7 linked regions of the Homo sapiens genome follow. Changing the gene in region 7 together with the main gene of any one other region gives a genetic interaction. Each region holds a gene or a part of one and is shown on either strand. Other genes may lie near its edges.

The links.
Region 1: changes in ZNF574 (region 7) and CIT together harm fitness more than expected from each alone (negative genetic interaction), as found in Homo sapiens cells (one large-scale study listed by BioGRID).
Region 2: changes in ZNF574 (region 7) and VPS4A together harm fitness more than expected from each alone (negative genetic interaction), as found in Homo sapiens cells (one large-scale study listed by BioGRID).
Region 3: changes in ZNF574 (region 7) and MFAP1 together harm fitness more than expected from each alone (negative genetic interaction), as found in Homo sapiens cells (one large-scale study listed by BioGRID).
Region 4: changes in ZNF574 (region 7) and RNGTT together harm fitness more than expected from each alone (negative genetic interaction), as found in Homo sapiens cells (one large-scale study listed by BioGRID).
Region 5: changes in ZNF574 (region 7) and ATP1A1 together harm fitness more than expected from each alone (negative genetic interaction), as found in Homo sapiens cells (one large-scale study listed by BioGRID).
Region 6: changes in ZNF574 (region 7) and CEP295 together harm fitness more than expected from each alone (negative genetic interaction), as found in Homo sapiens cells (one large-scale study listed by BioGRID).

What each region holds. Positions count from the first base shown.
Region 1 is NC_000012.12:119,709,415-119,713,320, forward strand, and holds part of CIT (citron Rho-interacting kinase), read right to left. Parts: intron 3,881-3,906; coding exon 3,789-3,880; intron 3,282-3,788; coding exon 3,177-3,281; intron 2,934-3,176; coding exon 2,764-2,933; intron 1,680-2,763; coding exon of another isoform or gene 1,635-1,679; intron 1,207-1,634; coding exon 1,126-1,206; intron 973-1,125; coding exon 837-972; intron 1-836. UniProt on the Homo sapiens protein: Plays a role in cytokinesis. Required for KIF14 localization to the central spindle and midbody. Putative RHO/RAC effector that binds to the GTP-bound forms of RHO and RAC1. It probably binds p21 with a tighter specificity in vivo.
Region 2 is NC_000016.10:69,314,129-69,318,034, forward strand, and holds part of VPS4A (vacuolar protein sorting-associated protein 4A), read left to right. Parts: intron 1-1,879; coding exon 1,880-1,991; intron 1,992-2,096; coding exon 2,097-2,244; intron 2,245-3,906. UniProt on the Homo sapiens protein: Involved in late steps of the endosomal multivesicular bodies (MVB) pathway. Recognizes membrane-associated ESCRT-III assemblies and catalyzes their disassembly, possibly in combination with membrane fission.
Region 3 is NC_000015.10:43,803,868-43,807,972, forward strand, and holds the end of MFAP1 (microfibrillar-associated protein 1), read right to left. Parts: intron 1,599-4,105; coding exon 1,509-1,598; intron 1,410-1,508; coding exon 1,227-1,409; 3' UTR 625-1,226; downstream 1-624. UniProt on the Homo sapiens protein: Involved in pre-mRNA splicing as a component of the spliceosome.
Region 4 is NC_000006.12:88,953,498-88,957,403, forward strand, and holds part of RNGTT (mRNA-capping enzyme), read right to left. Parts: intron 1-3,906.
Region 5 is NC_000001.11:116,386,695-116,390,600, forward strand, and holds part of ATP1A1 (sodium/potassium-transporting ATPase subunit alpha-1), read left to right. Parts: intron 1-593; coding exon 594-797; intron 798-1,436; coding exon 1,437-1,550; intron 1,551-1,943; coding exon 1,944-2,078; intron 2,079-2,207; coding exon 2,208-2,325; intron 2,326-2,744; coding exon 2,745-3,013; intron 3,014-3,518; coding exon 3,519-3,717; intron 3,718-3,906. UniProt on the Homo sapiens protein: This is the catalytic component of the active enzyme, which catalyzes the hydrolysis of ATP coupled with the exchange of sodium and potassium ions across the plasma membrane.
Region 6 is NC_000011.10:93,660,154-93,664,828, reverse strand, and holds the start of CEP295 (centrosomal protein of 295 kDa), read right to left. Parts: upstream 3,148-4,675; 5' UTR 3,055-3,147; intron 1-3,054. UniProt on the Homo sapiens protein: Centriole-enriched microtubule-binding protein involved in centriole biogenesis.
Region 7 is NC_000019.10:42,078,952-42,082,244, reverse strand, and holds the end of ZNF574 (zinc finger protein 574), read right to left. Parts: coding exon 948-3,293; 3' UTR 693-947; downstream 1-692. UniProt on the Homo sapiens protein: May be involved in transcriptional regulation.

The sequences.
Region 1 (3,906 bases), on a different chromosome or scaffold from region 7:
ACTCTCTGTACCTTTCAATTTTGCTGTGAATCTAAAACTGCTCTAAAGAATAAAATAAGGAAGAGAGGAAGAGACGGAGGAAAAAGAGCTGAGATTAAGAAAGGCCAGTTCTTGTCCATAGTATGTCAGTCCCCGGATCCAGCCATGCCTGAAACAAGACCTAACTGTTGTTGTTTTGAACACTGAATCGATATATTACTCTTTTCCCCTTTAAAAATAATGTCACTAACACAGACAGAGAGAAATAAACTGTACCCTGGTTATGTGACAGAATGTCTTCAATCCTTAGGTTGATATACTGAAGAACTTGGCGTCATACCTGCAACTAACTCTCAAATGGTTCAGGAAAGAGAGAGAGAGAGAGAGAGAGAGAGTGTGTGTGTGTGTGTGTGTGTGTGTGTGTGTGTGTGTGTGTGTGTGTGTTAAGAAGACAGAGAAAAAAATTATGACAAAATATTAGCAAATGGTGACTTGAGAGAGATCACAGAGTTAACAGAGCAAGCAAGCTCTCAGAAGGTCAGGGCCCACGGTGGTTTCGTTGCAATCAGGACAAAGGGTTTGGCTTTAGATAGTCTTCGAGGCTTAGCACTCTTCACTTGGCCTAACAGTGGGATGTTCTTTGGGAATGTCAGACTGTGCTAAACTGGATACTGGAAGGGAACTGAATCTGGACAGAGGGGGTCCATTAGCTGAGGCTTGGGCATCTATGGGGACACAGAGATAAGAGCTACAACGGCTCCTCTCTACTATTTTGTGTTTTACGAGCATGAAACGTGGCTTCAACATATTGGCTCCCTTGAAAGTAAAGAAAAAACACCATGTCCTTGGCCTCACACCTGCTATCATGAGTAGCTTCTCCAGGTCCTTGATAATATAAATTTGGAAGACTGCTCCAATTCCTGGGACATGGGTTAGGGAGTTTTTCAAGACATTCAGGGCGTAGAGCCCTTCCTCGGTGCCCACCAACACCACCTGCAAGGGCAGAAGTCCGAAGGCAGAACATAAGCACGGTCACGTCACCAGAACAATCTCTAGTAAGAGCAACAAGGCCTCCACAGCCCTTTCTTTCTTGATGGGGTGTGGCTGTAACCAGACACCAGCTGGCCGTGCCCATGCAAGCATTACCTGGTCACTGAAGGGCAGCGTGCAGTTCATGTCTAGACGGTCATCACCTTCCAGTTTCAGCAGGGAGTTTCCAAGCAGTTTCTTTTCATAGGTGAAAGAAAAGAAAAACAGAAGACATCGTGAGGCTGATCTGTTTATGACCAAACCATCCAGAGAAACCAAGAGAAGGTTAAGGCCAAGTTATTCCTGGAAATGCTCAGAAACGCACATATGCTCTTAGCTCAGCCCGTATTTTGATCTGAGCTCCAAATGCAAAATGCGAGTGCTATTGGTATCTCTGGGGCAGCTGTTAATTAGCATCTGAGTTATAATTTGGCTGGGATGCAGAAATAAGGGAGGGTAGTAGACATGGAAAGCTATTCTGTAATAAGAAATAAGCTGAAGCTAAGGAGATTTCACCTGCGCAGGGTTAATAAGACACATGAAAGACTCCTTCCCCCATAAGGCTGCAGCAGAAGTGCAAAGGCGCCGTGTTAGCAGCGAGCCAGCACGCCTCTGCATCTCTTTACCTGAACCCAGGCAGGCAGAAGCTCGTAAGAAACACAGTCGCGGGCCTATTGTACACATATTAACAAGGATTTCAGTAAAAGCTCACGTGTGAAACGACCAACAAGTCATCCAAACAGGTCTAACCACTGAGTAAAGCCCTTTTCAGGAGGCTTGTGGTTAAGAATCTGCCAATTGCTAACACATAAAGTGTTTATTAGGAGTGAAGAGTCTGAAAAGAGCTGTTTGGTCTTCGCTGGAGCAAACGTCAATGAGCAATGAGCACTGTTTGTATCCTGGAACATTTTAGGTGGGGTGATGCCAATCACAGCACACCTACGTTTCTAACAGCTTAAGGATAAGTAGGACTCCAAACCTGCCTACGGAAGAGCAAATACTGCAAAAACAACTGAGATGCTTATGAAAAGCCTTCCTGGAGGGGACACAGCTGCCGGCAGCCTATTGTGCTGCTTCGTGGCCAAAGTGCTTCTAACTCAAGCCTTCAAACCAGACAAACTCATTTGAGTAAACAGGAGAGAGGATTTCCTTATAAGTACATTTGCTGCTGCATCACCACAACCAAGGTCTACAATGCCACCAGAGTAGGCTACTGATGCCGATTCCCCCATTCTTTTTCCTTTGCTTTTACAGTCCATGCCTCGCTCTGTTGCCCAGGCTGGAGTACAGTGGCACAATCGTAGCTCACTGCAGCCTCAAACTCCTGGGCAATCCGCCGGCCTCAGCCTCCCTACTAGCTGGAACTACAGGTGCATGTCACCACACCTGGCTAACTTTCTTTCTTTCTCTTTTTTTAAGAGATGGGATCTTGCTATCTTGCCCAGTCTGGTTTCAAACTCCTGGGCTCAAGTGATCCTCCTGCCTTGGCCTCCTGGGTCACTGGGACCACAGGCATGAGCCACCGCATCCCTGATTCCCACATTCTAAATGGATCATGATGCCACACAAGCTACCTTGGTGCTTGTGCCTTCATCACCACCAGACTCCTGGCCATGACACAGTCTAGAGCCATCAGCCCTCAGAGAGAGAGCCTGAGGGGAATCAAAATGGCCAATGGGATTCTCGTCGTTAACACCAGTTACCAAGTCAGCCCCCTTTACAAAGACAACCTCCAGGGCCCGCTTTCATACTCACAGCATCAGCTTCTGCTTTTTCCCTAGAAACTCTCCCACCTGCGACAACTGATTCTAAGGCGGTGACCCAGCGCTGTTTGTCAGGGAAGCTGGGAGCTAGCAAGTAGAGGGTTCTCCCGGGCCAGCAGGTGGTGTGCGGGTGAGATTCCATCTTCAGTATGTATGGGACATCTAGGAGATTTCAGAGAGCACAGGATTGGGTGTGGATTTCCCCCGTTCCCACTGGGAGGGACGGGCCTGAGAGATCAAAGATGCCCACCAAACCACGCAAATCCCAGTTACCGCCAAGGCGGGGAGCGGAGGAAGATGGGCCTCCTTTGCAGAGCCAATCTTCCCTGTACCACCCCTTCTGTCCCTGCTGATTGGCCAAGCCCGGCCCACCTCCAGGGCGGGGCTCCTCCGGCTCCTCCTCACCTGCTTTGGCTGTATTTGCGAGTTCGGAAGCACCAACGGCACCATGAATAGATACATCCCCGTCGGGAAGGCACAGCTCAAATTCTTCCACCGGCCTCTGTCCAGCTTGGTGCAAAGAGGAAGGGCAGAAAGAAAAACAAAAGAACAGGAACAAGAACAAGGGGAGAAGAGAGAGCGAGAGAGACAGCAAGGGAGAGAGAGACAGGGTACGTGTGTAAAGAGAGGCGCACGAGAACAAGGAAGGGACAGAGGTGTGCAGAGAAGGCAGAGAGGGAAGATAAAAAAAAATAAAGTGTGTCAGATGAGTAGCACAGTCAAATTTCTGATGACGATGCGGATTTATGGGTTAGTTGACTGAGGCAGAAGTTCTCGGAAGGTGTATTAGCAGGTGGAATCTTCAGGGCAGCGCCCTGCGGGTTCTTCAGGGGGGAGACCTATAGATGTGAGTATCGCACCAATAACCTTTAGAGAAGTCATTTGGTTTGTAAGTTTCAAAAATGGAAAAGCGTAGAAGGCTTGCAAGGCAGTCCAAAAAACAAAGCCTTCGCGCCAGCACTGGGGAGACCTGGGTTAGCCACGTGCAATGACCTTCCCCCTGAATTATTAATTTACCTTCTCTGGCTTCATTGTCATAAATGAGGACTTTTGATCCCTCCAGGACAATGTACTTCCTGTCCCAGCCTTGCTGTCCTCGTTTGTTATTCCTGGGGAAAGAAAGATGGAAAAGAAA
Region 2 (3,906 bases), on a different chromosome or scaffold from region 7:
CTAACTTTTTGTATTTTTAGTAGAGATGGTGCTTCACTGTGTTAGCCAGGATGGTCTCAATCTCCTGACCTCCGGTGATCCGCCCGCCTCCGCGTCCCAAAGTGCTGGGATTACAGGCATGAGCCACCGTGCCCAGCCCCAGCACACTCTTAGGTGTATTACTAGAATTTCCAAAAGGAGGGAGGGGATGGGTCAGTGCTGCTCCTTATGGGACAAAGAATACCTTCAGTATTGTTCTAAGGATAGACCCAAGCATGAAGCTACAGAGAGTGAAAAAGTCCAAGGTACTGGGGGTGTGTGTTCTGGAGACGAGAAGCCACCAGGGAGAGGAGCGCTGCCTTCCTGTCTCATCTGAAGGAACATCATGCAGAAGAGGGCAGACAAGGGCAGCCTGTGCCTAAGCTCATTTCCAAGAAGGTTTGGGGCTCCCAGCCATTCATTGTAGGTAGTAGAGGGAGCAGAGGCTTGAAAATAATGGCCAGCACTCACCCCTCTTCTCATCTCTTCAATCCGCTGAGTTCATTTCACATCAGCCTGGCCCAGCCTCCCCTGGCCTGTCTGTTTTGTCGAGCTGTCTGTGTGTGTTTCTTTCGGAGACTTCTTCCTTGCAGATAAGAGAGGGCTGAACAAATGCCCCGGCCCTGCCAAGAGCCGGTCAGGAGGTTTATTGTTTGCTGTGCCTGGAACCGTGGGTCTGCGGTGGGACTGCCTGCCTGGTAACTGGTGCCGGATCTGAGGAGGAGAATTCTGGTCATGCTTCGTGCAGGCGTTGGTGAAGCTGCGGTTTTTAAAACCAGGCTTTAAAACCATGTAGGTGCTTTACTGACCGGTCGCGGTGGCTCATTTCTGTAATCCCAGCACTTTGGAAGCCAAGGCGGGTGGATCACTTGATGTCAGGAGTTCGAGACCAGCCTGGCCAACATGGTGAAACTCTGTCTGCACTAAAAATACAAAAATTAGCCGGATGTAGTGGTGGGCATCTATCACTTGAACCCAGGAGGTGGAGGTTGCAGTGAGCCGAGATCGCGCCAGTGCACTCCGGCCTAGATGATAGAGTAAGACTCTGTCTCAAAAAATAATAATAATAAATAAAACCACGTAGGTGCTTTCAGTTCAGCCTAAGGCACTGGCCTACAGGATTTATGAGATTCCCAAAGACACTCATTCTCACAGAGCTCTTAGAAGGTTCCAGAGGGACACAGTTCTCTTCTGTTGGCAGCAGGGAGCAAGCAAGTACTTTTCTTACTGGAGCTACTGGTATGTGGAGCATTGTGTGTAAGCGTCCCTTCCCAGGGTGTCACTTTAGACAGCGAAGGAAACTGTCTTCTCTCTGCAGCCTGGAGAAGCAAGCTGCATGGAGCCAGGAGGAGGAGGAGAGAGGCCTTTCAGTGTATCCTGTGCAAACTTGCAGTCCGGGCAGGACTTTCCTTCTGGCTGGCTCTTCTCTGGCCCTGAGGCCGGGTGCAATTTCTGGTCTCCTTGCTAAACAAACCAGCAGTCACTTGCTCCCGCGTGTCCCTTCTGCCAGGCTCTCAGCTCGGGTCTGTTTCTCTTTCCCTTGAGGCAGCAGAATAGAAAGTCCCATGAACTTGCCCCTTGAGCCCTGACCTGAGATATTAGGTCAGGTTTCCACTTGCTGAAATCCAGAGCGTGGCTTTTAACCGTCTGAGCTTATTGTGAAGATGGCCGGCTGGTTTTCAAAGCCTTCTTTGAAGGCCTTTCTAGCCGATGTTGAAAAAGTAGGCCAATGAAATGGCCCGCAAGCAATAAATCCACAGGCCCAGCGGCATCCCTCGTCACGTTTCATCCCCATGCCTGTGACCCCAGGGACTTTCCACCTCTCCGAGGAAGCACTGAGCCATTTGCTTTGCCTTTCCAGAAAGCCATTGATCTGGTGACGAAAGCCACAGAGGAGGACAAAGCCAAGAACTACGAGGAGGCGCTGCGGCTGTACCAGCATGCGGTGGAGTACTTCCTCCACGCTATCAAGTGTGAGTCACACGAGGGGTCCTCAGGCTGCCGCACTCCAGAGGGGAGCGGAGGAGAGGGGGTGGCGCACGAGCCTCACAGGGGCCCCTCTGTGTTCCCTTTCACAGATGAGGCCCACAGCGACAAGGCCAAGGAGAGCATTCGAGCCAAGTGCGTGCAGTACCTAGACCGGGCCGAGAAGCTGAAGGATTATTTACGAAGCAAAGAGAAACACGGCAAGAAGCCAGTCAAAGAGAACCAGAGTGAGGGCAAGGGGTGAGTGTCTGCAGCGTCCGCCCAGGAACCTGGGCCCTCCTCACGGCTCCCTATCATTCCTGGCGCTCATGCTGCCTTGGACTTCCCTGTGGGAATGGTCCTCATAGTGCAGGGATGACAGTGCCAGCAGCTGCTTTCAGGGAGCATGGCCTGGAGCACTTCCATGTTCACCGTCTCATTGGATCTGACCCACAAGCCATGGGGAGAGGGGGAGCTTGGTGCAGATGGTAGAGCCTCTCAGGACGGGACCCCAGCTCTGTCACCTCCCAGCCTAGTGCCAGGACCCCGTGTGCCTACCATCTCCACATCTTGGAAGTGGGGAGGTCGTGGAACTCACCTCCGAGCGTTGCCACAGGGAGCAGTGAGATGACGTGGGCAGTGCCCTTGGAGCTTGGCACACGAGAGCATGCAATGAGTGCCAGCTGCTGTGACTGTCAAAGAGTCACCTGCCTCCAACAGGTGGGGCGGCCGGCTCGGGTTAGGAGCCCTGCCGAGGTGGCACAGGATGGAACTTGGACCCCCAAAGCAGGGCGGGTGGCCCCGATTCCCCAGCCAGGGTCCTCTCCACAGCCTCTCACCTCAGGTACTGGGTTCGCCCACCACGGTGATCCCAGTCATATGAACACAAATGCTGGTGGTATCTCGGAGGCGTGGGAGGGGAAGTGAGGGGGTCCCCCAGGCAGGAGAGGGGTGGGTGGTGTCAGCTGCCTCACCAGAGGCGAGGCCTCCTCCTGGATGGAGGGTCTGCACCACGTTCCCATCCGCAGAGGGAGAGGTCTGGCGAGGCAGGGGTGGAGGCCAGGGATCTCCAATAAGGATTAAATCAAGTTTTGAGGATGACAGATTCCATCCAGGGAGGAAGTAGCCCTGGGGTGACAGTGGCTGCGTTCTCCCCAGGAGTTCCCTTTCGATTTCGGTTTTGCTTTCTCCTCTGTCCTTCGGCAGTGGCTGCTTTGGAGTCAGGGGCACATGCTGTCCCTGAGTCTCTACAAAAAGCTTCTGGTGCGGGGCATGGTGGCTCACACCTGTAATCCCAGCACTTTGGGAGGCCAACGCGGGCAGATCACTTGAGGTCAGGATTTCAAAACCAGCCTGGCCAACATGGTGAATCCCGTCTCTATTAAAAATACAAAAAAATAGGCCGGGCGCGGTGGCTCACGCCTGTAATCCCAGCACTTTGGGAAGCCGAGGCGGGCGGATCACGAGGTCAGGAGATTGAGACCATCCTGGCTAACACGGTGAAACCCCGTCTCCACTAAAAATACAAAATATTAGCCGGGCGTGGTGGCGGGCACCTGTAGTCCCAGCTACTCAGGAGGCTGAGGCAGGAGAATGGCGTGAACCCGGGAGGCGGAGCTTGCAGTGAGCCGAGATCGAGCCACTACACTCCAGCCTGGGCGACTGAGTGCGACTCTGTCTTAAAAAAAAAATTAGCCAGGCATTGTGGCATGTGCCTGTAATCCCAGCTACTCGGGAGGCTGACGCCAGAGAATTCAGAGAATTACTTGAACCCGGGAGGCGGAGATTGCAGTGAGCTGAGATGGAGATTGTGCCATCGCACTCCAACCTGGGCACCATCTCAAAAAAAAAAAAAAAAAAAAAAGAAGCTTCTGGCAGCTGCATTGTTTGACTGGCTTTTTTTTTTTTTTTTCCCCCAGACAG
Region 3 (4,105 bases), on a different chromosome or scaffold from region 7:
CCCCAGCTAGGCACAGTGGCTCAACGCCTGTAATCTCAGCACTTTGGGAGGCTGAGGCGGGCGGATCGCGAAGTGAAGATCAAGACCATCCTGGCTAACATGGTGAAACCCCGTCTCTACTAAAAATACAAAAATTAGCCAGGCATGGTGGCAGGCGCCTGTAGTCCCAGCTACTCGGGAGGCTGAGGCACTCTAGCCTGGGCAACAGAGCCGTCTCTTTAAAACAAACAAACAAACAAAAAAAAAACCCTGCAACGGCCCCTGAGTCTGCTGTAAGGACACTCAAATGGCAATTACAGACATTTCTCCAAGAGTTTCAAGGCCTTACCCTCATTCTGACTCTAGGATAATTCTTAGATTGTATCCCACACAACAGTGACTTGTACCTGTGTTCATCTTTATGTATTTACCACCTCATAGTAATTATTTGCATTCATTTTTATCGTACGACACTAAACTATTTGATTCTTCCAGTGGGACATTTAAAGGATGTGAGAAGACCTTGGTCTTCTCAAAAACATCTGTATTTGGTCATGGAATAAATCCAGATGCTACCTAAAGCCAAGCTAGTACCTGAGCTTGTTTCTGAGATCAAAGGGAATTATCAAAATGTGAAACACCTTCTGCCTGACAATTGTTATCTTTTACTTTAATAGGCAATTAATACTTGTCAGCTTGGACATTTTATTTCCAGTATCATGCTAAAAATCTCCTTGTTGTGTGATTCTTTTATTTCTTGACATGCACACATATATGGATCAAAAAGTATGTACAACTAGAAAAACGGACTCCAAGCAAAAATGGAAAACATGTTTCCATGAGCTTAGATTTCCGGGTATATTACTCCTAAACCTAAGGTAGAAGTAATGCATTGTTCACTTACATGTCCACTTTTCTAACCCAAGCTAAGGGCTGGAAAAAGAAAGTCAGAACAGTCCCAAGTAAATATGGGAAACCATAGCAGTGATAAAACCTAAGATTTCTCAGAAATAGTTTTAAGTGGGAAGCCTCTAATCCTACCTGGACAGTGCTTTCCTGTGGGTTTCTCAGCATGAGTCCAAACCTCACAAAGCACCTTCAAAGTCTGGGCTACCCAGTATCACAAGTATAGCAGTAAGTCCAATATCTGGATACAGGGGCCAAGGAAACAATGAAAAAACCAAATCAAGGACCAGATGCTGAGACTCCCCTTGTGTTCCACAGTTGGAAGAATAAGCAGTTGGACCCTAGGTAGTTTTCCGCTTCTTGGCAGATGGCCGCTCAAATACATCTCGTACCCCAGCTGCCTTTTGTTTGAAGAACTTTGTGTTCTGGGCACTCTCTTGGCCCCAAGCTGAGTCAAAGGAGGTGGTATCTTGATCCACAAGGTGAGTGTATTTGGTGCGACCTGAGCGTCCAAAGTTCTTGACCTGAGGGAAGGATGGATGATGAGTTATACCACCAAACAAACCATGCCTCAGCTATCAATACATCACTTTTCTCTGTCATGTTATTAAGGTTCCCCATACCTGCATGACTTTAGGAAGAATGGTTTTATTGAAATGATCCTCCAGGGTAGGAGCGCTGAAATCTCTCTTGTATACTTCTTCATCCTCATCCTGTATAAAAAAAATCTTATCAATCTTGTGGCTTTATTTCCTATATATTCAAACCACAAATTTATTAAACTCTACAATAAGGGATACAGAGAAAGCAGAGGGTATTGAGCCTTTCTTCAAGAGCTTACATCTAGTTGAAGAGATGACATTCTTTTTTTTTTTTCTGAGACGGACTCTCGCTCTGTTGCCCAGGCTGGAGTGCACTGCCGCGATCTTGGCTCACTGCAACCTCCGTCTCCCAGGTTCAAGCAGTTCTCCTGCCTCAGCCTCCCGAGTAGCTGAGGCTACAGGTGCATGCCACCACACTCGGCTAATTTTTTGTATTTTTAATAGAGACGGAGTTTCACCGTGTTAGCCCAGATGGTCTCGATATCCCGACCTTGCGATCTGCCCACCTTGGCCTCCCAAAGTGCTGGGATTACAGGTGTGAACCACTGCGCCCGGCCGAGATGATATTCTTTTTCCTTTGTTGTATTTCTCCTTTTTTTTTTTTTTTTTCCCTGAGACAGCGTCTCATTCTGATGTCCTGATGTCCAGGCTGGAGTGCAGTGGGGTCACTACTGCTCACTGAAGCCTTGACCTCCCAGGATCAAACGATGCTCTCACCTCAGCCTCCTGAGTGGCTGGGACTACAGGTGCATGCAACTATGCCTAATTTTCTCCTTGAGTGTAGACGTGTCTTGAAGGTTGGCTTATTCTCTGCACTCAATGTGTTTGTTTACTCATGTGACTTCAACTCTGCATAGGCCTCTCAAATCTGCAATCCTGGATTTTTTACTGGCTTTCATATATCATAAGTTGGATATTTTATTGGGACTTGAAATGCACGTCTAAAGTGAAAACCATTTATTAATACCTAACCTTTCCATATCAACCTCTTCTCTTTAACTTTTCTGTTAGTAGGACCAGCGTACTCTTCGATTACCTAGATTCAAAACTGAGTAACCTCTGTGTGCATTCAATCAGTTGCCACATCTTACAAACTCTTACCACCTGGGTTATTAGTTTTCCTCTACTATCAGTCTCACATACTGTCATGGCACTGATGTTTCTAGACTGTAACTCATTATAATCTTTGCCTTGCTCAAAAACTTCAATGGTTGTCTATTAAATGAATACAACACCTAGGCTGGGCGCAGTGGCTCACGCCCGTAATCCCAGCACTTTGGGAGGCCAAGGCGGGCGGATCACGAGGTCACGAGTTCAAGACCCACCTGACCAACATGGTGAAACTCTGTCTCTACTAAAAATACAAAAAACACTAGGCCTGGTGGCGCGCACCTGTAATCTCAGCTACACAGGAGGCCAAGGCAGGAGAATCACTTGAACTCAGGAGGTGGAGGTTGCAGTGAGCTGAGATCGCACCACTGCACTCCAGCCTGGGTGACAGAGCGAGATTCCATCTCAAAAATAAATAAATAAATAAATAAATGAATACAACTCCTCTGTGTAGTAATCAAGGCCAAATATTATACAGCCTTAATCCACCTTTTCAGTTCTCTTTGCCGCTTCCCTTCACAGCTGATGCTTTCTGCCTCCACTCCTGCTGGTCTCCACCTGGAATGTCTTCCCAGCACCGAATGTCAAAAAGTCTATACATCTTGGCCGGGCATAGTAGCTCACGCCTGTAATCCCAGCACTTTGGGATACTGAGGTGGGCACATCGCCTAAGGTCAGGAGTTCAAGACCAGCCTGGCCAACATGGAGAAACCCCGTCTCTACTAAAAATACAAAAACTAGTTGGGCGTGGTGGTACACGCCTGTATTCCCAGCTACTTGGGGGACTGGGGCAGGAGAATTGCTTGAACCCGGGAGGCGGAGGTTGCAGTGAGCCAAGATCGCACCACTGCACTCAAGCCTAGGTGACAAAAAAAAAAATTATATATTTAATTTTTTTTTTTTTGATACAGTCTCACTCTGTCGCCCAGGCTAGAGTGCAGTGGCGTGATCTCGGCTCACTGCAAGTTCCGCCTCCCAGGTTCACGCCATTCTCCTGCCTCAGCCTCCCAAGTAGCTGTGACTACAGGCGCCCGCCACCACGCCTAGCTAATTTTTTGTATTTTTAGTAGAGATGGGTTTTCACCATGTTAGCCAGGATGGTCTCAATCTCCTGACCTCATGATCCGCCTGCCTTGGCCTCCCAAAGTGCTGGGATTACAGGCGTGAGCCACCGCGCCCGGCCCAAAATTATACATCTTAAATGCTTAAATGTTACAACCTTTACGTCAACCCTTTCAATCTTCTACCAAATATAACATCTCTCTCGTCAGAACCCCTACAGTACTTTACTTTTACTTATGTTATAGTGATTATGTATTCTCGCTAACAGTGCTAAACAGTGACCTTTGCATAGTATATGCACTAAAGCTTACTTACTCAATGAAATAAACAACATTAGTAAGGCTGGATGCAGTTGCTCTTGCCTGTAATCCCAGCACTTTGGGAGGCCAAGGTGGAAGGAGAGTTTGAGCCCAGGAGTTTGAGACCAGCCTGGGCTACATAGCAAA
Region 4 (3,906 bases), on a different chromosome or scaffold from region 7:
AACTGGTGTTCCTGAGGAAGAAGAGAAACATAAAAGTTTGAAAAACTTATTTGAGGAAATAATTGAGGAAAAGTTCCCTGGCCTTGCTAGAGATCTAGACATCCAAATACAAGAAGTTCAAAGAACACCTAGGAAATTCATCACAAAAAGATCATTACCTAGGCACATAGTTATCAGGTTATCTAAAGTCAAGATGAAGGACAGAAACTTAAGAGCTGTGACACAATAGCCTCAGATAACCTATAAGGGAAAACCTAACAGATTAACAGCTGATTTCTCAGCAGAAACCTTACAAGCCAGAAGGGATTGGGGTCCCATCTTTAGTTTCCTGAAACAAAATAACTGTCAGCCAAGAATTTTGTATTCAGCAAAACTAGGCTTCATAAATGAAGGAGAGATAGTCTTTCTCAGATAAACAAATGCTGAGAGAATTGGCCACTACAAGAAATGAAAGACACACTACAAGAAATGCTAAAAGGAGTTCTAAACCTTGAAATAAAACCTCAAAATACACCAAAATAGAACATCCTTAAAGCATAAATTTCACAGGGCCTATAAAACGATAACAGAATTTTTTTAAAAAAAGGTATTTAGGCAACAACTAGCATTATGAATAGAACAGTACCTTATCTCAATACTGTATTAACATTGAATAGAAATGGCCCAAATGCTCCTTTTAAAAGACACAGAATGGCAGAATGGATAACAACCCACAAACCAAGTATCTGCTGCCTTCAAGAGACTCACCTAATGCATAAGGACTCACATAAACTTAAGGTAAAGGGGTAGAAAAAGATATTCTACACAACTGGAAATCAAAAGCGGGCAGGAATAGCTATTCTTATGTCAGACAAAACAAACTTTAAAGGAATAACAGTTCAAAAAGACAGAGAAGGACATTATATAATGAAAAAAAGGATTCGTCCAACAGGAAAATATCACAATCCTATATATGCACCTAACCCTGGAGCTCCAAAATTTGTAAAGCAATTACTACTAGAGACCTAAGAAATGAAATACACAGCAACACAACAATAGTGGGGGACTTCAATACTCCACTGACAGCACTAGACAGGTCATCAAGAGAGAAAGTCAACAAAAAAAGAATAGAGTTAAATATACCCTAGAACAAATGGACTTAACAGATATTTAGTCTCAATAAATTTAAGATAATTGAAATTCTATCTAGTATCCTCTCATACCACAGTGGAATAAAACTGAAAATTAGCTCCAAAAGGAACCCTCAAAGCTATACAAATACACGACCAGGCGTGGTGGCTCATGCCTGTAATCCCAACACTTTAGGAAGCTGAGGTGGGTGGATCACCTGAGGTCAGGAGTTCAAGACCAGCCTGGCCAACATGATAAAACCATGCCTCTACTAAAAATACAAAAATTAGCCAGCCATGTACTAAAAATACATGGTGGCACGGGCTTGTAATCCCAGCTACTAGGGAGGCTGAGGCAGGAGAATTGTTTGAACCTGGGAGGCAGAGGTTGCAATGAGCTGAGATCGTACCATTGCATTCCAGCCTGGGTGACAGAGCAAGACTCCATCTCAGAAAAAATAAATAAATAAAAATTAAAACTATACAAATACATGGAAATTAAAATTTCTGCTCTTGAATAATCTTTGGGTCAACAATGAAATAAAGATGGAAATTTAAAAATTTTTTGAACTGAATGATAACAGTGACACAACCTATCAAAACCTCTGAGACACAGCAAAAGCAGTGCTAAGAGGAAAGTTCATAGCATTAAATACCTACATCACCAGGCGTGGTGGCTCATGCCTGCAATCCTAGCACTTTGGGAGGCCAAGGCGGGCAAATCACAAGGTCAGGAGTTCGAGACCAGCCTGGCCAACATGGTGAAATCCTGTCTCTACTAAAAATACAAAAAATTAGCCAGGCATGGTGGCGGGCGCCTGTAATCCTAGCTGCTCAGGAGGCTGAGGCAGCAGAATCGCTTGAACAGAAGAGGCGGAGGTTGCAGTGAGCCAAGATCGTACCACTGCACTCCAGCCCAGGTGACAGAGTGAGACTCATCTCAAAAAAAAAAAAAAAAAACCCACACCAAAACATCTGAAGGAGCACAAACAGAAAATCTAAGGTCACACTTCAAGGAACTAGAGAAACAAGAATAAACTGAACCCAAACCCAGCAGAAGAAAAGAAGTAACAAACATCAGAGCAGAACTAAACTGTAACAAACAAACAAAAAATACCAAACATCCACAAAAGATTAACAAAACACTGGTTCTGGATGTGGTGCAGTGGCTCACGTCTGTAATCCCAGCACTTTGGAAGGCCAAGGGAGGCAGATCATTTGAGGTCAGGAGTTTGAGCCTGACCAACATGGTGAAATCCCATCTCTACTAAAAATACAAAAAAATTAGCCGGGTGTGGTGGCGGGCCACCTGTAGTCCCAGCTACTTGGGAGGCTGAGGCAGGAGAATCACTTGAACCTAGGAGGCAGAGGTTGCAGTGAGCCAAGATGGCATCACTGCACTCCAGCCTGGGTGACAGAGCGAGACTCTGTCTCAAAAAAAAAAAAAAAAAAAAAAAAGCTGGTTCTTTGAAAATATAAACACAATTGATAGACCATTAGCAAGATTAACCAAGAAAAGAAGAAGATTCAAGTAAGTTCAACTAGAAACAAAACAGGAGATATTACAACCGATACAACAAAAATATAAAAGATCATTCAATAGTACTATGAATACTTTATATGCACAAACTAGAAAATCTAGAGGAGATGGATAAATTCCTGGAAATATACAACCCTCCTAGATTAAATCAGGAAGAAAGAGAAACTCTGAACAGACTAATAACAAGTAGCAAGACTGAAACAGTCATAAAAAAACTGCCAAGAAAAAAGTCCAAGAAAACAAAAATAAATTAATTAAATTAAAATTTAAAAATTTTAAGTGCAGGACCAGATGGATTCACAGCTGAATTCTACCAGTCAAAGAAGAATTGCTACCAATCTTACTGAAACTATTCCAAAAGACAGAGAAAGGGAATCCTCCCTAAATCATTCTATGAAGCCAGTATCACTCTAATACCAAAACCAGGAAACAATATAACAATAAAGAAAACTAGAGACCAATATCCCTGATGAACATAGATGCAAAAATCCTCAACAAAATGCCAGCTAACCAAATCCAAAAGCATATCAAAAAGGTAATACACCATGATCAAGTGAGTTTCATACCAGAGATGCAGAGATGGTTTACCATACACAAGTCAATAAATGTTGGCCAGGCGTGGTGGCTCTTGCCTGTAATCCCAGCACTTCAGGAGGCCGAGGTGGGTGAATCATTTGAGGTCAGGAGTTCAAGACCAGCCTGGCCAACGTGGTGAAACCCCGCTTCTATTAAAAATACAAAAATTAGCCAGACGTGGTGGCAGGTAGTCCCAGCTACTCAGGAGGCTGAGGCAGGAGAATCACTTGAACCCGGGAGGCAGAGGTTGCAATGAGCTGAGATGGTGCCACCGCACTCCAGACTGGGTGACAGAGCAAGACTCTGTCTCAAAAATAACTAAATAAAATAAAAATAAATGTGATACGTCACATAAACAGAATTAAAAACAAAAATCACATGATCATCTCAATAGATACAGAAAAAGTATTTGACAAAATCCAGTATCCCTTCATGATTAAAACCTTCAGCAAAACTGGCACAGAAGGGACGTACCTCAAGGTAATAGAGCCATACCTCAACATAATAAAAGGCATCTATGACAAACACATGACCAACACTATACTGAATGGGGAAAGGTTGAAAGCATTCCCCCTGGGAACTGGAACAAGACAAGGATGCTACTTTCACCACTTCTATTTAACATAGTACTGGAAGTCCTCACCAGAGCAATCAGGCAAGAGAAAGAAATAAAGGGCATCC
Region 5 (3,906 bases), on a different chromosome or scaffold from region 7:
TTCCAGTGAGTACTTTTCAGTCAACAGGTTTATTGGGAGGTGGCTAAAATGCACATGGAGGTGAGCCCTTCCCTGCCAGACAAGCAAAGAATCAAGCTGTATATTTAAAACTTGGCTGTTAACCCAAAGGATTTCTACAGGAAGTTTTTTTCTCCTTTGATGTTTGTAGAGGGGTTTTTTTTCCCCTCCCGACAAAATCAATACACAGAAAACCCAAAGCTCTTAATTTGCAAAACTGAATGGATTTGTGAAAATAGATACCTTTTTGGCAGAAATGCAATTTGGCATTAATCCCTTGATCTAAAACTTAGAAGAAACCAGGCTGAATTCAAATTTATTGATGGATCAATTTAAAGAGTTTTAATCTGGGTGTTATGAGTTCCTTGGGCCTATTGTTTGCCTGAACCCTGTGGGGACTGGCTCATCAGCAGAATTATTCATGGAGGAATTTGCTAGGTTTTACCTTGGCTCTCTAGCTTGGGACATTTTGTTTCTTCCTTAAATCCTTATTGCAACCGTCCAGCTACCAGGTAGGTATATTGCCTTGTAAGTGCTGGTACAGTTTGCCTTATTTATATTCCACTGCTTCTCAGGGATTAACATCTGCTCGTGCAGCTGAGATCCTGGCGCGAGATGGTCCCAACGCCCTCACTCCCCCTCCCACTACTCCTGAATGGATCAAGTTTTGTCGGCAGCTCTTTGGGGGGTTCTCAATGTTACTGTGGATTGGAGCGATTCTTTGTTTCTTGGCTTATAGCATCCAAGCTGCTACAGAAGAGGAACCTCAAAACGATAATGTGAGTTCTGTAATTCAGCATATGGATTTGTAGTACACATCAGATATCTTCTCCGTCTTTGTCTCCCACTTCTTCTCAATTACCACTCATTACTTAATGGTTATGAACTCATTACTTAATGGTTATGAACAGCTGTTGCCTTCAAGGCTCATCCATTCTTCCTTCGTTTCCATTTCCTCTCTCTACCACCCACGTTGTAGATGCTCTTACAAGTGGGATGCCCACCTGCATGTGCTGCTGTGAGCAGGCAGCTCTGCTCAGGCCCCGGCCGCCACCCACTGGATGGCAGAGCACAGCGATTCATGTTGGCACATCCACCTGTCCAGAAATGCTTGGTGGCCATTCTTCAAAATCCACAAGTTGGTTGAAAAACAATCTTTGTTTTATAAAGCAGGAGAAACTGATGCATCTAGAACCTTTCCAAACGTCCAGTTAGTGATCAAGTGTTGGTGTGCCTGACTCCATTTCTGACCCTTCCTGTGTGGTCTTTAGAAGGATAAATAAGAAAACATGAGTTCTATATTTCTGAAATCTTGGTTTCTCTATTAAAAATCTGTTTTTTATTCAGTCAAAAAATTAATTGAATGTCCCTAATTATTGTGTAGAGCCACGGGCCCTAACTTGTCTTTTCCCTTCCAGCTGTACCTGGGTGTGGTGCTATCAGCCGTTGTAATCATAACTGGTTGCTTCTCCTACTATCAAGAAGCTAAAAGTTCAAAGATCATGGAATCCTTCAAAAACATGGTCCCTCAGGTACCAGACGCTTTGTCCTTCCCCAGTGGATGACTTGACAGCCCCAAGCATGTCAGCCTGTGAATTAGTGTGAAGTTAAGGTTTTCCAAGTATTACATGACTCATCAGAGAGATGGATGTCTTCTACCCCACCCAAAACCAACCTATTTTCCTTCTATCCAAAAAGTGGTAGCCTTTCTTTTGAATGTAAACTCTGAATACAGGCACACCATGTAACAGCAATATCTCTTAAACTGGCGAGCAAGCTTTTGTAACTTGTGTAAATAAAAAAGTGAATAATATCTTTGTTTTGTATTCAGGTAATTAGGATTATGACTATTTTTATTTTCTTGTTTTGGACACTACCTTCTCTTTGTTGGTATACTAACGGTGTAAATTGTTTCTTTTCCAAAGCAAGCCCTTGTGATTCGAAATGGTGAGAAAATGAGCATAAATGCGGAGGAAGTTGTGGTTGGGGATCTGGTGGAAGTAAAAGGAGGAGACCGAATTCCTGCTGACCTCAGAATCATATCTGCAAATGGCTGCAAGGTAGCTCTTTTATTTTAACAAACCTCATAGCTAGCTCTGCTGTTCGGGCAGCTTGATTTGAGGGGTACAGTAGCCCATGATAAGGCTGGTGTATTCACATGACATTTTTCTTCTTTTCCTCACATATAGGTGGATAACTCCTCGCTCACTGGTGAATCAGAACCCCAGACTAGGTCTCCAGATTTCACAAATGAAAACCCCCTGGAGACGAGGAACATTGCCTTCTTTTCAACCAATTGTGTTGAAGGTAGGCCATTTTTGGGCACTTTGAGCATGGCGTGGTATTTCTCTTGGGCATTAACAAAATCAAAACCATAGGCACAATCTCTTGTTTTATTGGCTCCATTTCTGAGAACTTGTGTCAAGCACAGAGCAGAGGTGTTTTCCTAGCTGGCAGGAAACCTTGTGGCAGTTTCCCTTCCCTCCACCTCCACCCTGCCTCTTCTGTCAACAACACCAGTCTGGCATGGGTGTTGGAGCTGCTGTCCTGCTACTGGAGAGAAGTCCCTTTGCCAAACAGCATGTACAGCCAAAGAGCTGGCCCTTAAAAAGTGCTTTTATCAACTCTTTTTGTTTTTTTAGTCATCCTATGTAATTGTGTAAAATCCGTGGCTTCCTTCAGGTTAGATACAATTAGGTACAGTTCTCCCTCCCCTTCTTTTTAAGGCACCGCACGTGGTATTGTTGTCTACACTGGGGATCGCACTGTGATGGGAAGAATTGCCACACTTGCTTCTGGGCTGGAAGGAGGCCAGACCCCCATTGCTGCAGAAATTGAACATTTTATCCACATCATCACGGGTGTGGCTGTGTTCCTGGGTGTGTCTTTCTTCATCCTTTCTCTCATCCTTGAGTACACCTGGCTTGAGGCTGTCATCTTCCTCATCGGTATCATCGTAGCCAATGTGCCGGAAGGTTTGCTGGCCACTGTCACGGTAAGAGGCAGGTGATGGTCACCCTGACTCAGATCAGCTTGCACGAATGTTACACTCTTCCGCTATCCTATTCTAAGGTATTGCCAACTTATGTTTTATTCTGGATGTTTGATATAGTTCTTCTTGAGAGCCACATCACGTGGTGAATTTTGACAGTGAGAAAACCTCAGCATTTGTTTATACGTAAGATAACCCCAAAGCATACATTTTGCTTTTAAATTATCACGTGGTCCTGAACAGTGCAGTGGAGAAAGGAGAAGAACTTGGGATCAAGTAGGGGGATAGAATATGGTAGAATCCTGTTATTATTTTTCTTAATAGATTGCTTTTCTGGAAGGAAGGGGAAGCCTCATGTATGGGTTCCCCTTATTATTTCTTCAAACTTCAGAAGAAGGTTGGAGAGATTTAATTTTAGACAAATTTCTTCCACATTAGGATATAGCAAGAATCTGTATAGAATTCCAGCCTGGTTGAGTGAAGTAATAATCTTCCTAATATTTTTTAGGTCTGTCTGACACTTACTGCCAAACGCATGGCAAGGAAAAACTGCTTAGTGAAGAACTTAGAAGCTGTGGAGACCTTGGGGTCCACGTCCACCATCTGCTCTGATAAAACTGGAACTCTGACTCAGAACCGGATGACAGTGGCCCACATGTGGTTTGACAATCAAATCCATGAAGCTGATACGACAGAGAATCAGAGTGGTAAGGCCAGGGTTACCACACACCTCAGCCACCTGCTGACTTCGCTTGGTTTTTTTTCTTTTAAGAAATTGCATGAAATTTCTTTTTTTTTTTTAAGCTCATGGCAGCTTTTTCTTTCTTTTTTGTTTTTTTTTTTTTTATCATTTAGTGAAGAGTCAAGGGTATGGGATATTGATTTTTTGCATGTCA
Region 6 (4,675 bases), on a different chromosome or scaffold from region 7:
GGATGCACAATGTTTTCAACCAGGTGTAAACAGAATAGGGGCTAGGAGACTGTGGGATTACCTAACAGGGACTAATACCTTTCCAGTGACTTCTCCATCAGAATGTAAGCTCATCAGGGCAGAATGGACTTATTCACCATTTTATGTCCATAGCCTGAAAACAGTGTCTCGCCCATAGGTAGTTACTTCAGTAAGTGTGTTGACTGAATGAATGACTCAATGAGTTAATTTATGTGAAGTGCTACAGAGCTATACACAATCATCACAACCTTCAATAAGACTCTAACACCAAAAAGGACTAACTGCTGGCATTAAAAAAATCTTTTAATGCATCCTACTCATCTAATATTCACACGGCTTTGGTAATGGTAACTAAAGTACTGATTATATTTTTCATGCTATACATGAAGAAACAAGGCCTCTTGGGTTAAAGGACTTTCCCTGAGTGACAACATCTAGTGGCGGAGCCAAGGGAAGAATCTGGTTTCCTTATTCCAAATGGCTCCTAACTTTCCAACACACAAAAATATGTGGAGTGGCGAAAATTTTATTTAAGCTGTTGTTTTTTGAGAGTGAGAATTTAAAAAACAGAAAATTTAACAAAGAAGAAAAAAGAACAAGATTAATCTTCACAATGTATCTTTATTATTTTGTCTGAAGGTCTAAGAAATTCCCTCATATTTAAATAATTAAGACTAATTCCTGATGAATCTCATAGACATAATATTGCTGAATTTTTAAAAAGCCAGACACAAAAAAGTACAACAAAATTGATTTATATAAAGTTCAAGAACAAGCAGAACTAATCCATGAGAGGTAAAAATAAAGTTACCTTACTGGAAGTTACTGACTCGGAGATGGCACAAAGAAGCTTGCTGGGGTACTGAAAATTTATATATTTTGATCTGTATGATGGTTTAGACAAGTGTATACATATGTAAAAATTCCTCAAATGGTATACCTAGATTTGTGTTTTATTCTTATACTTTAAGAGGAAAAAAATCCTAATATTTCAAATTTTAGGTATCCATTACTTCATCTCAGAGGATTATTGAAAAACATATAAACATTTATTATTTTTAAGCTCCTAAAATGCGATAGAATAACTGTTTCTTCTTGTGTATAATTTTTAAATTTTTTAAACTTTTTATTTGGAAATTTCAGGCTTAGAATTCCCATTTGCCCTTTCCCCAGCTTCTCCAAATGTCAACGTCTTGTACATAACCATGGTACAATGATCAAAATCTGAATATTAACACTGACACAATATTTTTTACTAATCTACAGGCAGTATTCAATTTTTGTCAATTATCACACTAATGTCTATTTTCTGGACCAGAAGCCAATCCAAGGATATAACACATTGCATTTGTTGCTGTGTAACTGTGTGTCATCTAAAAAGCAGACGCTAAGATGGGAGTAAACCTGCAAATATTTTATTAGGAGAAATGCGTGTGTGAGGGAAAATGGGAGGGAGCTGATAAAAGTTACAAGCGCCTCAGACTTCAGTGTAAGTCTAACACTGAATGGAGGGAAGTAACAATGGGTAGACCCCTCTTAGACAGCCATGCAGTATAAGAAATGTTCAGCAAGAACCCGTGGGGAGATTCTCAGGAACAGGCCTGCCACTGTCAGTGGCTAGGAGCAGCCCATGGGAAGCATGGCCTCAGTGCAAATGGAGATTTCAGAATGCAGGAGATTAAGATATGTGAGTTACATTCTCATGTCAAAGTTGTCATGTCCCCCTTAATCTGGGACAGTTTCTCAGTCTGTCTTTTCAAGACCCTGTCATTTTTGAAAATACTGGCCAAGTACTTTGTTGAATGTCCCTCCATTTAGATTTGTCTAATCTTATGTGATTAAACTGAGGTTATGTATTTTTGGCAAGAACACCACAGAATTGATTAGGCACCTTTTCAGTGCATTGTTATCAAGAGGTAAATGATGCTGAATTTTGGTCACTTGGTTAAGATGATGTCCACCAGGTTTCTCCTCTGTAGTTACTACTTTTCCTTTATAAATATCTCATGAAGACAGAGTAGAGGCTACAGAAATATGCTTTTCATCATACTTTTGCCCATTGACGTTAGTATCCATTGATGACTGTTGTCTGAAACAACTACTGTGGTGTTTACCAAATAGTATTTTCTATTTCCATTATTCCTTCTACAATTATCAATCGGAATCCTGCTGTAAGGAAGTTTTCCCTGCTGCCCCATTTACTTGTTTATTAATTATTTATTCTTAGTAATATGGATTTTTAAATTCTACATTTTATTACTATCCAATATTGAAGATTATACTACTTATCTTGCAAGATTTCGTCCTGAGGATTAAATGGCTCCTGGTACATAGTAATCACAAAATTAACACTAAACTTGGAAGATCTGGGTTCAAGACCCAACACTGCCACTTATTAGCAGGAAGATACTGGCCAAGTCACTGAAGTCACTTTGGTTTCGTTTTCTTAAACTGTATAAAGGGAATAATAATATCTACCCCAAAAGGTTTGTTCTGACGTCTATGTGACTTAGCGTGAAGTCTTCAAATACACTCTAAGTATTAAGGACTCAAAAGTTCACCATTGTTTTAAAAGTTGAGTTTGTGACAGGATTGAATAACTGTGAGATTAAGGTGGCAGACACCAAAAGAGAGCGTGCTCTTTGCATGAAACGATCCAGGCAAGGCTCTTTTAACAGCTACCAGGTGGCAGGCCATGTCCGCGGGTGATCTGGGGGAAGCGCCCCTCCCCCGACACGGAAGCTCCGCGACAGGGGAGGCTGCGTGGGAAGCTCGCGCGACCCGACCCCAGGAGAGCGCGCAAAGCCTCTCGCACTGAGTTACCGGGTCTGGTCCGGACACTCCTTACAGCCGCCAGCCCGACCGCGGGCAGGGCCCACGGCCTGCGGAGCCTGAGAAACGCGAGCCGTACCTGCGTTCGCAACAAGGCGCCTTCCTGGGATCCCATTCCTCCGGAATACAATCCCAGCTCTTGGGCCTCGGGGAGTCATGCTCCTACGGGGCGACTGGGAAGCCAGTGCATCCCTGACTCACCTGAGAACCCGGGGCCTGGACACAGTAACCGCAGCTCAGAGCAAGCCAGCCTGGTAAGCTCCTGCCCATCAGCTGCCCAGCAGCCGTTTCTGCGCCTGCGGGAGAGCCATCGCCGAGCCGCCGTCACTTCCGTCATTCAAACCGCCCGCCAATGGCCGGACCAAACCGCGGGAATAGGCCCTGTCCCGCCTTCCTCGGGGGCCGCCGGGAAGGCTGCGCGGTGTTAAAAACCCCGCGCCCCGCGCACGCGCACAGGCACGCGCCAGCCCCAGCCTGCCTAGGGGCCCATTATTTGTCACACCTGTCAGGCTTTGACGTTTTCCCGTATGGGCCGCGCTCGGTGGCTCGCGCCTGTAATCCCAGCACTTTGGGAGGCCAAGGCGGGAGGATCACTTGAGCCCAAGAGTTCGAGGTTATGTATTTTTGGTTATGAGTTCAAGACCAAGTCCTTTTAAAAACATGGTGAAACCTCATCTTTACAAAAAATACGACAACAGCAAAAATTAGCCGTGCGTGGTGGTGGGCGCCTGTAATCCCAGCTACTCGGGAGGCTGAGGCAGGAGAATCGCTTGAACCCAGGAGGTGGAGGTTGCAGTGAGCCGAGATCCCGCCAGTACTGCACTCCAGCCTGGGCGACAGAGCCAAAGCCTGTCTAAAAAAAAAAAAAAAAAGTGCAGAGCCATGAGGGTGACTTTTGTTTTAAGGCCCCATCATGAAGATATCTTGGGATATGCATCCTTTTCTGTACTGACTACGGAATTCATTGGTACTATTATGCGCAGTTAACGTCTTATAGCTTTCATTTAAGGCCTCCAGCTCATAACAACAATGAGCCGTATGTTACCCTGTGCCTCCAGAGGTACAGCGCACGGAGAGCACCTCACGGATTTATCTGCTGTAAATAACCAATAATCAGGCGGTGAGCACAGGTTAATACCTATTGAGTATCTGTTATGTGCCGAGTACATTATGTTACTCTGGATGGATTATGATGCCTATACTAGATTTTGCAGTCTGGGTCATGGGGGTTAAACATCAGGAATCAAAGGATTAAAAATGGGGGGTGGGGATGGGAAGTTGCTGACACGATCAGATCTGGCTGCACAGTGGGGAAAAGGTCAGAGAGAGTGAAGACAGAAGGCCGTATACTACTACAGAAAGTGAAAGATAATAGCAATGAGAATGGAGAGAGGTGAGTAGATTGAATAGGAAGCCAAACATCAGGAATTGGTGGTTACCTGGTTATGGGAGGCACAAGAGGAGAAAACAAGGGTGATGCCCAAGTCCCAGATACCTAGCACCTGGGTAGATAGTGATAACATCCTCCTGGAACACACATGAAGAGAACCAGGAGGGAGAAGTAATAAGTTAAGCTTTGAATATTTTGAATTTGAGCTGTTTATGAGATATCTAGACAAAGGGATGCATTTCAGAAACTTAGGACACAAAATTAGCAGTACTTGACAAACAATTGCATGTGAGATTGAGAGAAAAGGGAAAGTGAAGTTGATTTCATAGGCCACTAGCTTGGGTAGCAGTGTTGATTCTTGATTGTAAAGGGAGAAATCAGAAATGGCAGTTAAGTGGGTAGGGTGATGAGCCAAGCTCTGTGTATATTGAA
Region 7 (3,293 bases):
AGCTCTGCCCTGCCTGGATTGAATGTGACCTTGGGCAAGTCATCTCAATGCTTTTGACTGGAGATTCCTTCCCTGCAAAATGTTCTCACGTAATCAGTGTGAATATTATTCAGTTATATAGTACTTGAGACTGACTAGATGTTCAAACATTAGCCAGCCATCCCAACAATCCATCACTCACAATAAAAATCTGTTGGCTGAGCCAAAGTCCAACTCCAGGGGAATTCAAGTCACCACCTCTCATGAATCTTCCTACATCCAGACACATATTATTCAGAATCTCCTTTAATTCCACAGCTCTAGAGATCATGCCTACCTGCATTTGCTCTTGGGGATCAATGAGAAAATCAGATGGCCTTGGGAGACAAGGTCCACATCAGGCCAGGAGTCAGGGACAGGAGTGTAAAAATCTGATTTCTCTGAAAGTTCCTGCCACCAGTACAAACACTCTTGAGCTTTTCCACAGAGCCATGGGACCTCTAGTGGCAAGAGAGCCATGCTACCTCCATCTAGCAGTGAAGTGAAGGCCCTGCTATGAGAGCCATGCCCATGAACACCAGGTCATTCTCTTCAGCCCAGCAAATGTTTACTGAGCTCCTACTACCCCTAATACCTGCCAGGCCCACTTCTGGGTGTTGGTGATGCAGCCACGAGAGGTAAGACCCATGACTCCCAAATTCCACTCTACACACTGCTGGCAACTCAGTCTTTATTGATGGTTTCATTTTTGGGGTCACCAGTGCTAAGAGGTGGAAGGTGGGGGGGCACCTTTATGTGTGTCAAGGACCCCAGAGCACCCCCCTCACGAGAGAATAAATCCAATTTAGAACTTACAAGGTGGTGGGGATGGGAAGAGGAAGGGACACAGTATGTACAGATGCTTAAGGGGATGCTGGAGGGCCTTCAGCAACAGGGAATGGAGGTGCCAAAGAGGAAGTCGGGCAGAGTCAGCCACTGATCTGGACCCCCTCAGCCTCGGCCAGAGGGTAGATCTCAATGGCTTCCACCAGGGGTAGCGCCTCCACAGCAGTCTCCATGACGGCCAGGCCAACGGCAGCCTCCGCCTCTGCCAGCTGCTGCCGCACAGCTGCCTGATGCTGCTGCTGATGGGTCTTGCGGTGCTTCCAGAGGTTGGAGAAGGAGCGGTAGCTCTTGCCACAGTCAGGGCAGGAGTAGGGTCGTTCGCCTGTGTGGATGCGGCGATGTTCTGCCAGGCGCATGGAGATGGCAAAGGCCTTGCCACACACTTCACAGGCAAAGGGCCGCTCACCTGTGTGCAGGCGCCGGTGGTCTTTCAGGTGGGTACTCTGACGGAACGCTTTGCCACAGTCTGGACATGGGTATGGCCGCTCACCTGTGTGGATGCGCCGGTGCACCTGCAGTGACGTCTCTGTGCTGAACAGCTTCTTGCACTCGCTGCACTCTAGACCCCGGCGGCGGGCAGGGGCCGCAGGGGATGCTGTAGCAGTGCTTCCAAGGGCTGCTGGAGAGGCAACTGGTGCACGAGTGGCCCGTGGGGCTCGAGGGGCAGGGGGCTCCTTAGCCAGGACCTCTCCAGGCCCAGCAGCTGCATGGGCCGCCTCGTGTGCCTGCAGTCGAGCAGCTGAGCCCACTTTCTTGCCACAGGTGCCACACTCAAAGCGCCGTGGGGCCTGGGCAGCAGCGGCTGCACAGCGGTGCTCCCGGAGCCGCAGTGAGGAGGGGAAGGCAGCCCCACAGGATGGGCAGCGGTGGGGCTGGCGCCCGGCATGGACCACGAGCTGGTGCACCTCCAGCAGCCGACGCAGCAAGAAGGAGCGGGGGCACTCGCGACACTTGTAGGGGTATTCACCTGTGTGATGGTAGCGGTGCATGAGCAGGCGGTAAGGACGGTGAAAACGCACCCCACATTCCTGGCAGCGGTAGGGGAAGTGCTGGGCATGCACCAAGCGGTGCTGCCTCAGTGTGGAGCTTTGCGTGAAAGCCTTGCCACAGTCCCCACACCGGTAGGGCCGCTCTCCTGTGTGTGTGAGCCGGTGGCGGGCCAGGTTGGCAGGTGAGTTGAAGGGCTTGGAGCAGTCAGGGCAGGGGAAGGGCCGCTCCCCTGTGTGTGTGCGCAGGTGGTTACGCACGTGAGACTTCTTCTTGAACATCTTGCCACAAATGCTGCATTTATGGCGCCGCTCCAGCCGATGCACAAAACGTTGGTGCCGGGTCAGCTGCAAGGCCTTTCCAAATTCACGGCTGCACAGGAGGCAGCGGTAGGTGCCTGGGGCAGCGGGCCCTGCTGAGGTCTCCTCAGACACAGGGGGCTCAGGGGCCTCTGGCTCTCCAGTCTCTGCTGGGGCTGGCTCAGGGAAACCAATGACAGGTTCCTCTGGTGGGACTGGTGTTGTGGGCAGAGGGACACCCCCTACCCCATGAGTACGCCGGTGATAAAGGAACTTGGTAAGGTTGACAAAGGTCTTCCCACATGGACATGAATGCAGAGGATTCGGGGTGTGGGCTCGCCGGTGGGCCAGGAGGAGGGCCTCTGTGCCGAAGGCCAGGCCACAGTCTACACACAGGAAGTGTGACTCGCTGCTATGGTCTCCAAGGTGCTGGTCCAGACTGGAAGGGCTAGGGAAGACACGACTGCACAGGGGGCACTTAAAGACGCCCTCCCGGTGACTCCGCAGGTGCTGCTGTAGCTGGTGGGGTGAGAGAAAGAGCTGGTCACAGGCTGAGCAGAAGAGCTCCTGTGTGGCTGCCCCGCCTGCTTCTCCACTGTTGTTCCTCCGGGCCCTGCGCCCCCGGCGATCCCGCCCAATGGCTTCACCATTGCGCAGCTCGTAACTGTGGTCAGAAGCTGGCAAGGGGTCAGGCTGAGACACAGGCACCTCTGCAGGTGACGAGGCCTGCACCTCCTGCTGTAAGGCAGGCTCCTGAGACTCGGGTACAGGAGCAGGGAAGTGAGTGGCCTGGTGCTCCAGGAAATCCGCCGGCAGCTGGAAGAGCTGGGAGCACTCAGAGCACTTGTAGAGGAGCAGCTCCACCTCAGTCACTACCTCAGTGGTGGTGGCAGCGGCAGATGGGACAGTCGCCCCTTCCCCACCCTCTTCTGCCTTTCGGTATGAGTGCTCCACAGCCACTCGGGCCTGGCCCACAGGAGGCCCTAGAACAACTGGGGACCCCAGGACAACAGGGGCAGGAGCCTTGGTGGGTGTGGCCCGGAGGTGCGTCTGCCGGTGGTTCAGCCAGAGCTCCTGGCTGGCAAAGAGAGCCTTGCAATCCACACACTCGTAGTGGATGGTGCTGGAGCTCAGGGGTGGTGC